Regions from separate parts of the Homo sapiens genome. Here region 2 is linked to region 1. The links come from fine-mapping of genetic effects on gene expression. Tissue or cell type: monocytes after interferon gamma. Region 1 holds a variant in brackets; the other region holds the start of a gene. All regions are shown on one strand. Distances are from middle to middle.

Region 1 (5,263 bases):
CAGACAACACCCGTGATTACATTGCGAGGTGTTTTGGCAGATGTCAGATCCATGGCTAACACAAGACAAACCAGCAGTACCGAGTGTGGGGACGTGGATTCCTGATTTGCTGTTCACGCATCTCTGGGGAGGGGAAGTTCACCTCATGAAAGGCACATGATTCATAGCAGGGCTCCTTGGTGGCTGCTTTTTTTTTTTAACACTTGTTCTGCAGCAGCACAAAGGAAACAGTTTTATTCTTTAATTACTTGATATGAACTGTCTCACTGATGACAACTGTGCAGAAGTCTTGCAGAACCTATCTGGCCTGTAACTTGAGTTTGGATCTTGGCATCCTAACTGTCTGTAAGCCATCAGAATCTCTAAAACCACCTACACAGCAGAGAAGCCTGTACAGCTCCTGACTCATAGAAGGGTTCAATAATAAGTATTCGGTGTTAGAATAAATGAGCTGTGGGCCAGGTGCGGTGGCTCACGCCTGTAATCCCAGCACTTTGGGAGGCTGAGGCGGGTGGATTGCCTGAGCTCAGGAGTTGGAGACCAGCCTGGGCCACGTGGGGAAACCCCATCTCTACTAAAATCCAAAAAAAAAAAAAAAAAAAAAAAAAAAAAAAAGATTAGCTGGGTGTGGTGGCGCATGCCTGTAATCCCAGCTACTGAGGAGGCTGAGGCAGGAGAATTGCTGGAACCCAGAAGGCAAATGTTGCAGTGAGCTGAGATAGTGCCACTGCACTCCAGCTTGTGCAACAAGAGTGAGACTCCATCTCCAAAAAAAAAAAAAAAAAAAAGCTGCAAAAATAAATACATATTTTACTAATACTTGATTCTGGGACATAAAGATCATTAGGACAGCTTTATAGGAAAATATGCTTTTAAAGTTTGAGGTAGGAAGCCTTGGTGGTCTTTTTTTTCTGGAGAAATTAAAATTTCAAGCATTTCCTTCCTCTCATACATGCTGTGTACAAACCATCCCTAGAAATGAACTGTCTGGAGTATTTTATTTCTTAATTAATCCAGTTTTGCTATTTGGTGTAAACAGGATGATGTTCAGGCTGAATGAAAGAACAGGAAAGTTTAGGGGATACAATTCAAGGAGGAGTTTCAACTCCCTCCACATCTGCTGCTCTATTTTGCTTTAAATTAGATTTTAAAATTAATTTAATTTTTCATTTGAAACTGCTGCGCTCTCCACCATCTCTCTTTCTTTTCTTCCAGTAACTGGTCCTCCTCTCTGTGGCCCTGGTACTTCCCAGAGCAAACACTGCATCATCTGACAGTTCTTTTTCCATCATTTTTTTTTTCATTACTTAGCCAGACTGGTAATTTATTAGTAAGAAGAAGATGGTATCAGCTGACAGGACTAGGCTTATGGGCATATGAGAAAGACAAAGATCTCTCTCGCCAATTATAGAAATTCCAAGTTGTGATCCACTTCTTTCTAGCAAGCACCACCCTCTTTTAACATGAAAAGACTCAAAACACAACAGTAGATAATTTGACACGTCACCTTAACTTCTGCATCTGGAAAACTGAGACACAACATGGGATACCTATTTCATGGAGCTATTGTTGGAAATCATATTTTCAAGTATTTATTAATTCTCAGCTTCCCACCAAAGTTTTGATCTTCTGACCACAGACATCATACAAGAAAAGAATATAAGATAAAATAAAGGAATCAGGAACAACGAAATTACTCATAATAGTAGAGAGTCTAAAAAGTCAAAACTAAGGAAAAATATGTTCAGATGTTGGAGAGGGGTGGGCCACATAGTTTTGGTAAATAAGCTTTAAATATGACTCTGAGATCCTTGAAAGTTCAATGTTGTCACAGTGATGTCTGTGGTCAGCAGATCAAAACTTTGGTGGAAAGCTGAGAATTAATAAATACATGAAAATATGATTTTCTGTTTTGTGGTTTTTCATGATCAGAGAGAAGTTTAAGTCTTTTTTTTTCTTTCTTTTTTTGGAGTTGGAGTTTCACTCTTGTTGACCAGGCTGGAGTGCAATGGCGCAATCTCGGTTCACTGCAAACTCCACCTCCCGGGTTCAAGTGATTCTCCTGCCTCAGCCTCCCGAATAGCTGGGATTACAGGCATGCACCACCAC[G/A]CCCAGCTAATTTTTGTATTTTTAGTAGAGACGGGGTTTCAACATGTTGGTCAGGCTGGTCTTGAACTCCTGACCTCAGGTGATTTACCCACCTCAGTTTCCCAAAGTGCTGGGATTACAGGTGTGAGCCACTGCACCTGGCCAAGAAGTGTAGGTCTTCTAAGAGATGATGTGTGGCACTTGAATGTCCTTAGCCCCACCAGCACTTAGGTACAATGAGGTGACATGTTCATTAAAAACAGTTTCTCCTGACTTTTGTCCCCTGCTTGTTGATCATAGACTCTTCTCATTCCTTTACTGCTCTTCTCCATCTCCTTGCATCTCTCTATTTCTTGCAGCCACAATACAAACAAACAGTGACAATAACAGCAGGCACAAAACAAGAACAATTTCCCACAGACATCAATATGTGCAAACAGACCTGAGCAGGGAATGGTCACCAGTCTCTCGTGAATTACATGAAACCAGACTCAAGATTCTATTTAGGCTCTCTGGGACCCTAACCCTATAAGACTCTCCTGTGCAAAGTGATACACAAGTGTAGGATTTTATCAGTGTGTCACTGAAGACGTTTAAAAGCCATTTAGGAGGTGGAAAGGAAAGGTGGAGACTGAAGACAAACGCTGGCTCTTTCCTCAACTTTCTTTGCCTTGTCTCTAGGCCTTTTTGTCATTGTTGCTGTTAAACCCCGATTTCCTTAGTATTCTTAAGAAATGGTGGTGGCCGATTCTTCTGCTTAGTGGTGGGGTGGGTATGAACAGGGGGAATTCAGATCTTTTTGGTTTTTAATTTAAAGTGGTATCTAAGTTACCTATTTTGAACACAGTTGAAACCCCTTGGGTGGAGGGGATAATGAATTAGGGAATTAATAGAAGTCAAAAGAAAGAAACCAGGAGAAGTCTCCCTGTATTCTAGCTGAGGACTAGGCTGCTGACCAACAGCCCCTGTCAGGCTCTCTTCCTTTTTCGCTTTGGAGATCTTTTTAGGTTACACCCTAATATACCCTTAGCAGAGTATTAGCTCTGATGCTGGGCAGCATCACTTTTTATTAACTTGTCTGTCTCTCCTTCTGGACTGTGACATTACTTGAGGGGAGAGTTTTGTCTTTTATCTCAGTATCACCATTTCCTAGCAGATTCTTGGCTCCAAGAGGGAAGAGAATTTATTTTATTATTTCCTATACCTCTTACTCAGTCTCCAGTAAATATTTATTGCACGGATAAATAAGTTACCTGGCAAATTGTAGGTACTTAATAAATATTTGTTCAATTATTGAATTGTACATGGAAATTAAATCATATTTTCAATCAGTCAGGAAGTTACCTATTTGGAGAAACATCTAATGTATCCTATGTGAAGTGACTTTCTTCTCCACTTAAAATTCCTAGTTTTCTTTTTAGTTTTTCCAGATTATGCAAATAATACATGTTACAGAAAATCAGGAAATCACAGAAGAAAATAATAATGATGCAGAATCCTTTCATGTCAAATTAAAAACTTATATTGCATATATAATTTTAAATCCTGCTTTTTACATAATCATGACTATTTTGTTACATCATTAACTTTTTTGGCTTAACATCCTGTTTAGTGGCTATACAACATTCTGACTTATCAATTTGCCTTAATTTTAGCTATTTCTCTTGTTACTTACACTGTAGTTTGGTTTTAATTTTTCACTATTATAAAAGACATTTAGCAATGAAAAGTTTGAATATAAATTCCTGCTTGCATTTCTGACTATGTGCTTAGAATAGATTTGAAAAACTCTTCTTTTTCTCCTAAGATGTTCAGGGCAGTGTATTTGAGTAAAGACTGGCATTTTCTGCCTTTCATTAGTGACACTGGGTAAAGGTGAACATGGTTACTAGCTGTTAGTTTGCCGATTGTCCTTTCTTGAAAGATAGCGGCCCAATACTTTTGAATACTGTAGCCTTGTGACCAGCTCCTGAACTGTATCTTTAACACAGCCAGGCTTATAATCCAACCCTCTATCTTCCTCACCCTCTGACCCCAAACCTGGGTGCTCTGGACATTCCCATGACAGCCAAAGAAGGATTTTGAAAAAGCTGAGATTGATGGAGCCCATTCAGGCGTGCACTCTTTAGGTGAAAGGGATAAAAGGTAAATGCATTTTTATATAGCTTTCAGTCATCCTGAACACCTATTGCCCTAACTGAACTGACCCCCTGAGTTTATGCCCCTGGTAACCCTCTGAAGAGTACTCTGGGCTCTAATACAAACTCAAGGAGATGCTGATTCTTTTTTTTTTTCTTTTTTGTGACAAAGTCTCGCTCTGTCCCCCAGGCTGAAGTGCAGTGATGTGATCTCGGCTCACTGCAACCTCCGCCTCCTGGGTTCAAGCAATTCTCCTGCCTCAGCCTCTTAAGTAGCTGGGGTTACAGGCATGCGCCACAACACCTGGCTAAGTTTTGTATTTTTAGTGGAGACGGGGTTTCACCATGTTGGCTAGGCTGGTCTCAAACTCTTGACCTCAGGCGATCTGCTTGCCTCAGCCTCCCAAACTGCTGGGATTACAGGTGTGAGCCACCGCACCCAACCAAGGACACGCTGATTCTGTAAAGACAGTGTGGGGCAGCAGATCATCCTTTCTTCTTGCTGCCTAAAATAGCCCATTAGAAGAGGAGATGGGAGACCAGGTGACATGGCTCACCAGCACTTTGGGAGGCTGAGATGGGAGGATCCCTTAGGCTAGGAGTTTGAGGACCTTGTAAAAAAAGAAAAATAAGAGGAGATAGGTATACTTTAGTCCAATATGTTGTATAAGCAATGCCAGAGCATGAGGAACAGCATATCTTTATATTTATTTAGAGACAGTCCATTCTCATCTAAAAACCTAAGTGGCTATTGATTTTAACTGAACCAAGTAGAAATTGCCACAGGGTGAAAAATCCAGAACTGGTTATAGACACCAGCTGTGCACCAGGAAGACATCTGTGTAAATCCTTCCTGCCACTGGGTTATGGTCTTCAGCAGCAAGTGGGATAGAGGCTGAGTGACTTGTATGGTAAGACACAGCTGATGGTACAGGATGGAGCACAAGAAGGTCACATGGCTCAGAAGAGTGTCAAGAGAGTCAGAATACCAAGCACCCGCCTCTCCTCTTAGAAGTTGTGTGGGTTCCGGAGCCTGA
Region 2 (5,000 bases), 200 kb after region 1:
GTTCGGACCTCGGGCTTCAAGTCCTGACTCATCACTAACGGGTTCTAGAGCTCTGGGCCCTTCGATCTTCATCTTGAAAATGACAGCCTGAAAGGACTTTTTACGGCCCCCTTCAGCTTTAAGCTGGTCCTGACCTAATCACATGTTTCAAGTTCTAACTGAAAATTACGAGAAGGAAATTAGGAAAGATGTATCAAAGTCCATGTTTATCCTGGATTAACTTTGTCACCATTGTGCTGCTGTGGAGGCAAACCTGTTGCATCACATGGAATACCCTATTTCTGGCTGTGCATTAGAAATACAAGAGGCAGCCGACTGGCTTTTTATATTTTCATTTTTTAAAAAAGTAAACAATAGTATCCCTCGATGATGGGAAGTTCTCAGGTTTCACCTTTATAGTCTGAAAGTACACACAGAATGCCACCTGGCAGACAAGGGCCACACAGCTGAACCCGGGGTATGCTGGCTAGCTTTACCACGCGTGAAGACTCACTTTAAAGCCACGTCCCCAATCCTTACCAGGGGGCTGATCAGTGCCGTCGCTGTTACTGGTGGGGCGATTAACCGTGTAGCGGCCAGAGAATGAGGTTTGCGTATTACCTGCCCATGTATTTATACCCACCTCGTGTGGCTTGTGGTCACCAGAGCAAGAGCATGCAAATTAAAAGCAACGAGATTTGACCTTAGATCTTACTGGACACATCTACTACTATATTGGAAACAGGAAAAGAAAGAGCTTTTGACACAGCACCTGGTGGAAGGGGCAAACCTCCATCTCCCCATACATTGCATTGTTGCAGTCTTCAGAGTTTCAAAGGCTTGCCGTTTCTCCCTGAAAAACACGGCCGGTCGGGAGGGATTTCTGGCGCGGCCCACTCACCTCTTTGATCTTTGCCCTTTTCTCGCGGATGGCGGCGTCGGCGGGCTCCCGGCTCTCCACCCCGATTGGGGGCACGAAGTCCACCGGGGGCAGGCCTCTGAACGGCGCCTTGTCACGCAGCTGGTCCTGGGCCACCTTCTTCTTCTCCAGTAGGATGTCTCTTTGGATCTCCTCGGGCAGCTTCTGCAGGGTCTCCTTGGCTTCCCTGAGAGCCCGCTCGTGGTTTTCGCGGATCCTGGCCAAGTTGTCCTCCAGGGCGGCCTCCGGGTCCCCGGGTGCCCCCTCCTCGCGGCGCCGGGCTCGCCCCTCGGCCGCGTCCTCGGCGCGCGCCCCGGGCCCGGGCTTGTGGTCGGCGGCCGGCTGCAAGGCGGGGCTGGAGTGGAACAGGACCCCGCTGAGCAGCTTGGAGGAGTCTGGCAGGAAGAAGATCGCCCCGAAGCAGAGCGTGATGAAGGCGCTGAATACCAGCAGCAGCACGAACTTCTCCGTCAGGCGGAGGGCGGCGGGGCCCGACCCCTTCCTGCCACCGCCGCCGCCGAGCCCCCCGCCCAGGACGCCGCCCGCGGGGCTGCTGAAGAGCGGCAACAGGCCCCCCACGGGCATCGCTCCCGCTGTCCAGTGGTCCGGCGCCGCGCCGCTCAGCAGCCAAACTTCGCCGCCGCTGGGAGTCCGCGGCTGCGGGGCTGGGTCCTGCGTAGCCAGGCCGCCCGACCCCCTCGGCTGGGCTGCGGATCCTCCCTGGGGGAACAACTCCGCGCCGGGTCTTCTCCCCGGGGCGGCTCCTCGGGCACACAGGCACGCGCGACAGACCGCTGGCTGCAGCCCCTGCGGGGAGAGAAACAGTAAAACGTAGTAATTACGGCGATGATAAAGTTTCCAGCGGGTCTCCGCCCTCCGACTCCTGGCGAGCCTCCAGGACCGCTCCCCTTAAGCAGAGTCCTGTCCAGTCCGGGCACCGCCCTCGCAGCCCACTCTCTGGACTTGGGGTGAAGTTATCAGGTCCCGTGGGTAGGGGAGGGGTGTCCCGCGCAGGAAGGGGTCAGGGCAGCGCGCGAGCACCTCGGGGAGGGGCAGCGCACCTCTGGGCAGGAGGGGCGCAGCGTGGGCGGGAGACTCGTCAACTTCGCCCGCTCCCCATCTCCGCGCTGAGACTGCTGCCTCTTTCCTAGGCTGGGCTGAGCGCGCTGTCCCACGGTCCCGCAGCCCCGGCGCGGCTCAGGTGGGCGAGCGCGCCGACCTGCGGGCGAATGGCAGCGAGTAGAGCAGCACGGTACACTCCGCCGCGGCCCCGCGAGCACTAATCTCACTGCCGGTCTTGGGGCGGTGGAAAGCGAGGGAGGCGACGCGGCCGGAGAGTGACGGCGCGGCCGGGCCAATCACGCGCCGCCCAGGGTCCCGCGGGGGCGGGGCCGAGGCGAGGAGGGGGATGCGCGGGGCGGGGAGTTTACGGGAAGCGCAGCCTCGGCGGGGCCCGGCCGGCGGCGGGGAGGTCGCGGGGCCGGGAGGCGCGAGGTAGGCGGGAGCCGCGGTGAGGAGGACGGTCGAACCCGTGGCTGAGGCCCAGCGCCGAGAAGCGGCAGGCAGAGTTCGGGGTCGGGGAGTTTATCCTGCGCTGGCCTCGGCAGGGGTCCCCGGGGTGGTTGATCCTCGACTGGCCCGGGAGGCGCCTGGGTCCGCGCGGGACCTCTCTGCCTCCTCCTCCGACCCGTGCGGGGCGGTCGGGGGCGCTCCCGAGGGGGTCCCGGGAAAGGCGGGGTCTGGCAGGGGGTCCTGGGCGCTGGGTCGTTCAGAAGCACGGCTTTACTCCAGTTACCCTCTTTTTATCCAAGGCCGGGGTTCCCCGGGTGCCTGGTAGCAGTGAAACCCCAAGTCCCTCGGTTAGGGGAGCCGTGACCCTGGGAGCTTTTGAGCTCTCTGGTATAACATCCTTTTACATCCTAAGAGACACAGTTCTGTGCTTGCTTAGGACTTTTTTCGTATGCGCCCTTTCTTCCCCCAAAAAACAAAAAACCGAAAAAACTTGTATGTCTCTCCCGCCCACCCGTACTTTCACTATTCATTTACCTCATAGAAGTTGGTCAAATTTTCCATTCGAAGACGAGTTTTATGCTGCGGTAGCTTCAAGCAATAAGTCGAACACTGTGTTGAAATTAAGTCTTGGATCCGACTACTTCCAGCGAAGTGAGGAGTTGGTCCAATAGAAATTATTTTCCAAAATGTGTTGTAATTCTCCTGTTGCTCCACAAATAAGGGGTTATCAGAGAGGAAAACGTTGACTGACTTCGCATTTCTGAAAGCTGGTTTGTAGTCGCCTTATTTCATCCTTACCCTTCTCTGGAAATGTGACATTAGTTCTGTTTGTGCTTAAGACAAAGGAAACAGCTGGCACCTTTCGGGAAGGTGGCTCCAGTACAGTTGTTTCCAGGTGTTAAGCTGTATGAGAAAGTAGAAAAGTAATCAGAAATCCTTACTAGTTTTCATTTAATCATTTAATTATTAATTTTAACCATCATTATTTGTCGTCTACTTGTTTTGTGTAAAATGAGTAATACACTCAAAGTTCTTGTTAATAGGAAATTATTGTTTGATAAAGCTGGCTTTATGGCTTGGTTATTTTGATACCTGCTATGAAATTCTATGTCCAGAAGAGTGCAGCATATCCAAGCAGGGTAATAAGTTCAGAAGGACTGAAAAAGAAAACAAAGATGATTTTTCTTTAATGATGGAAAGGCAATTTTTATTTCAAACGATTATGCATTTGTAGGTTGTGCATAGGCTGAAAGGTTTGAATCACTGTGAAATAATGTTTCTAACAACATCCTTAAAACTGAGTTACCTCTTGAATGGATAGATAAATAGGAACTGGGTTAACTACCCCAAACGCTAATCTCTTTATGATCATCCTTTTTTGGAATGATTTATTATTTTAAAAATTATGTTGTAAGAATGGAATTATAGCCCCGGAAATATTTAGAAGCTTTATTTCAAATTAATGTTATTAAGTATTCCAGCAAAACAATAAATTCCACTTTTAAGTATATGTTAAAATGGTGATAAATAAAAGTTATAACTTAATTCTATTTCTGACACTTTAATTTTGATACCAAATCAGTTTGGGCATTTAACTTCTGTAGTGGAAATATTAAAAATTTAGTACGTGGGTTTAAGGATTTTTTCCCCTAAAAACTTTAAATTTATCTATGTTGTTTCTACATCTTTTAAAGTAACTATTCTTTTTAAGTTCATCATGAAGCTTATTTTAAGATTTTTTTCTTATTTTCCGTATTTCTTAAATGACAGGGTTATACTTGCAGCCTGGCTTTGATAATATGTTAAACAAGAAGTTAACATGGGTGGTTGATTATAGGTACATATTAAAGGGTGTCTGTGTACATTAGGTGGGATAAGAACTATATAGGAACACCAATATTTGGGCCAGAGCAAATTTGAAAAATTCACAAAGAAGGTATCTGAAGAGGCATAGCAATCGAATTATGCATCCTCTTTAAAATAATCACATGAAGCCCTGTGTGCTCATGGTAAGGGAGGAGTAGAAAATAGTCAACAAGTAAAATTGTGCATTTTGTAGAAGCAAAATCGGACACTTTCCTCTGATTTCAGTACTACAAAGCACTTGACATTCTACCATTGAAAAAAGTACTTTGTACCCTGAGATAAAAATAAAGGTGATTGGTTCTTGTCTTTTAAGTAATGAAACCTTGACTTTGTCCCCTAAGTCAAGACTCCCTAGCCACATCTACCTGAAGGTAATGTCACCATCTTTATGAATGCAATGATAGTGCTGAAATTGCTGTTTCTCATTATGGATGGTCTAATGTAAACCTAAGAACCTTAGTAATTTTGTGGGATTTTTAAAAAAATACTTGCTATGTTTTTTTATTTGGCCAGCCAGTCCTTTTGAAGTATAACTCTCTTGTAATTTTTGCAGGTTTGCTTGCAAACTTAATTCTTACATTTTCCTTTTTCAATACTTAATGTTTTTGTGTATTTCTTTGATAATTTGTAAATTTTTGTGTTTCAAGATTATATCTTTGAATCAAGTAATTTTTTAAAAACCTGATCATCAGTGATACCACAAAACACTACAAAGAAATCCCCA

Which allele goes with the higher level. Positions count from the first base shown, and alleles are read on the strand shown. Sizes are in standard deviations (SD) of each study's normalised expression.
As copies of G replace A in region 1, the expression in monocytes after interferon gamma of the gene that starts at base 2,179 in region 2 goes down (small effect, 0.39 SD a copy in Fairfax 2014).

Evidence for each region. PIP is the estimated chance that this variant, and not a neighbour inherited with it, causes the effect.
Region 2: MAN1A1 starts here. The variant in region 1 is fine-mapped to the expression of MAN1A1 in monocytes after interferon gamma (Fairfax 2014, PIP 0.95).

Annotation. Positions count from the first base shown.
Region 1 is chr6:119,151,077-119,156,339 of GRCh38, forward strand. No RefSeq gene overlaps it. Among named protein-coding and RNA genes, the nearest start is that of FAM184A, 75 kb to the left of the region's middle. The variant G/A (reference allele first, on the strand shown) is at 2,110.
Region 2 is chr6:119,347,583-119,352,582 of GRCh38, forward strand. MAN1A1 (mannosidase alpha class 1A member 1) reads right to left here and starts at 2,179. Exons shown (of 13, transcript NM_005907.4): 1 at 1,960-2,179; 2 at 881-1,705. The coding sequence starts at 1,483. RefSeq lists an enhancer at 650-999 and silencers at 1,210-1,329, 1,390-1,589, 2,100-2,739.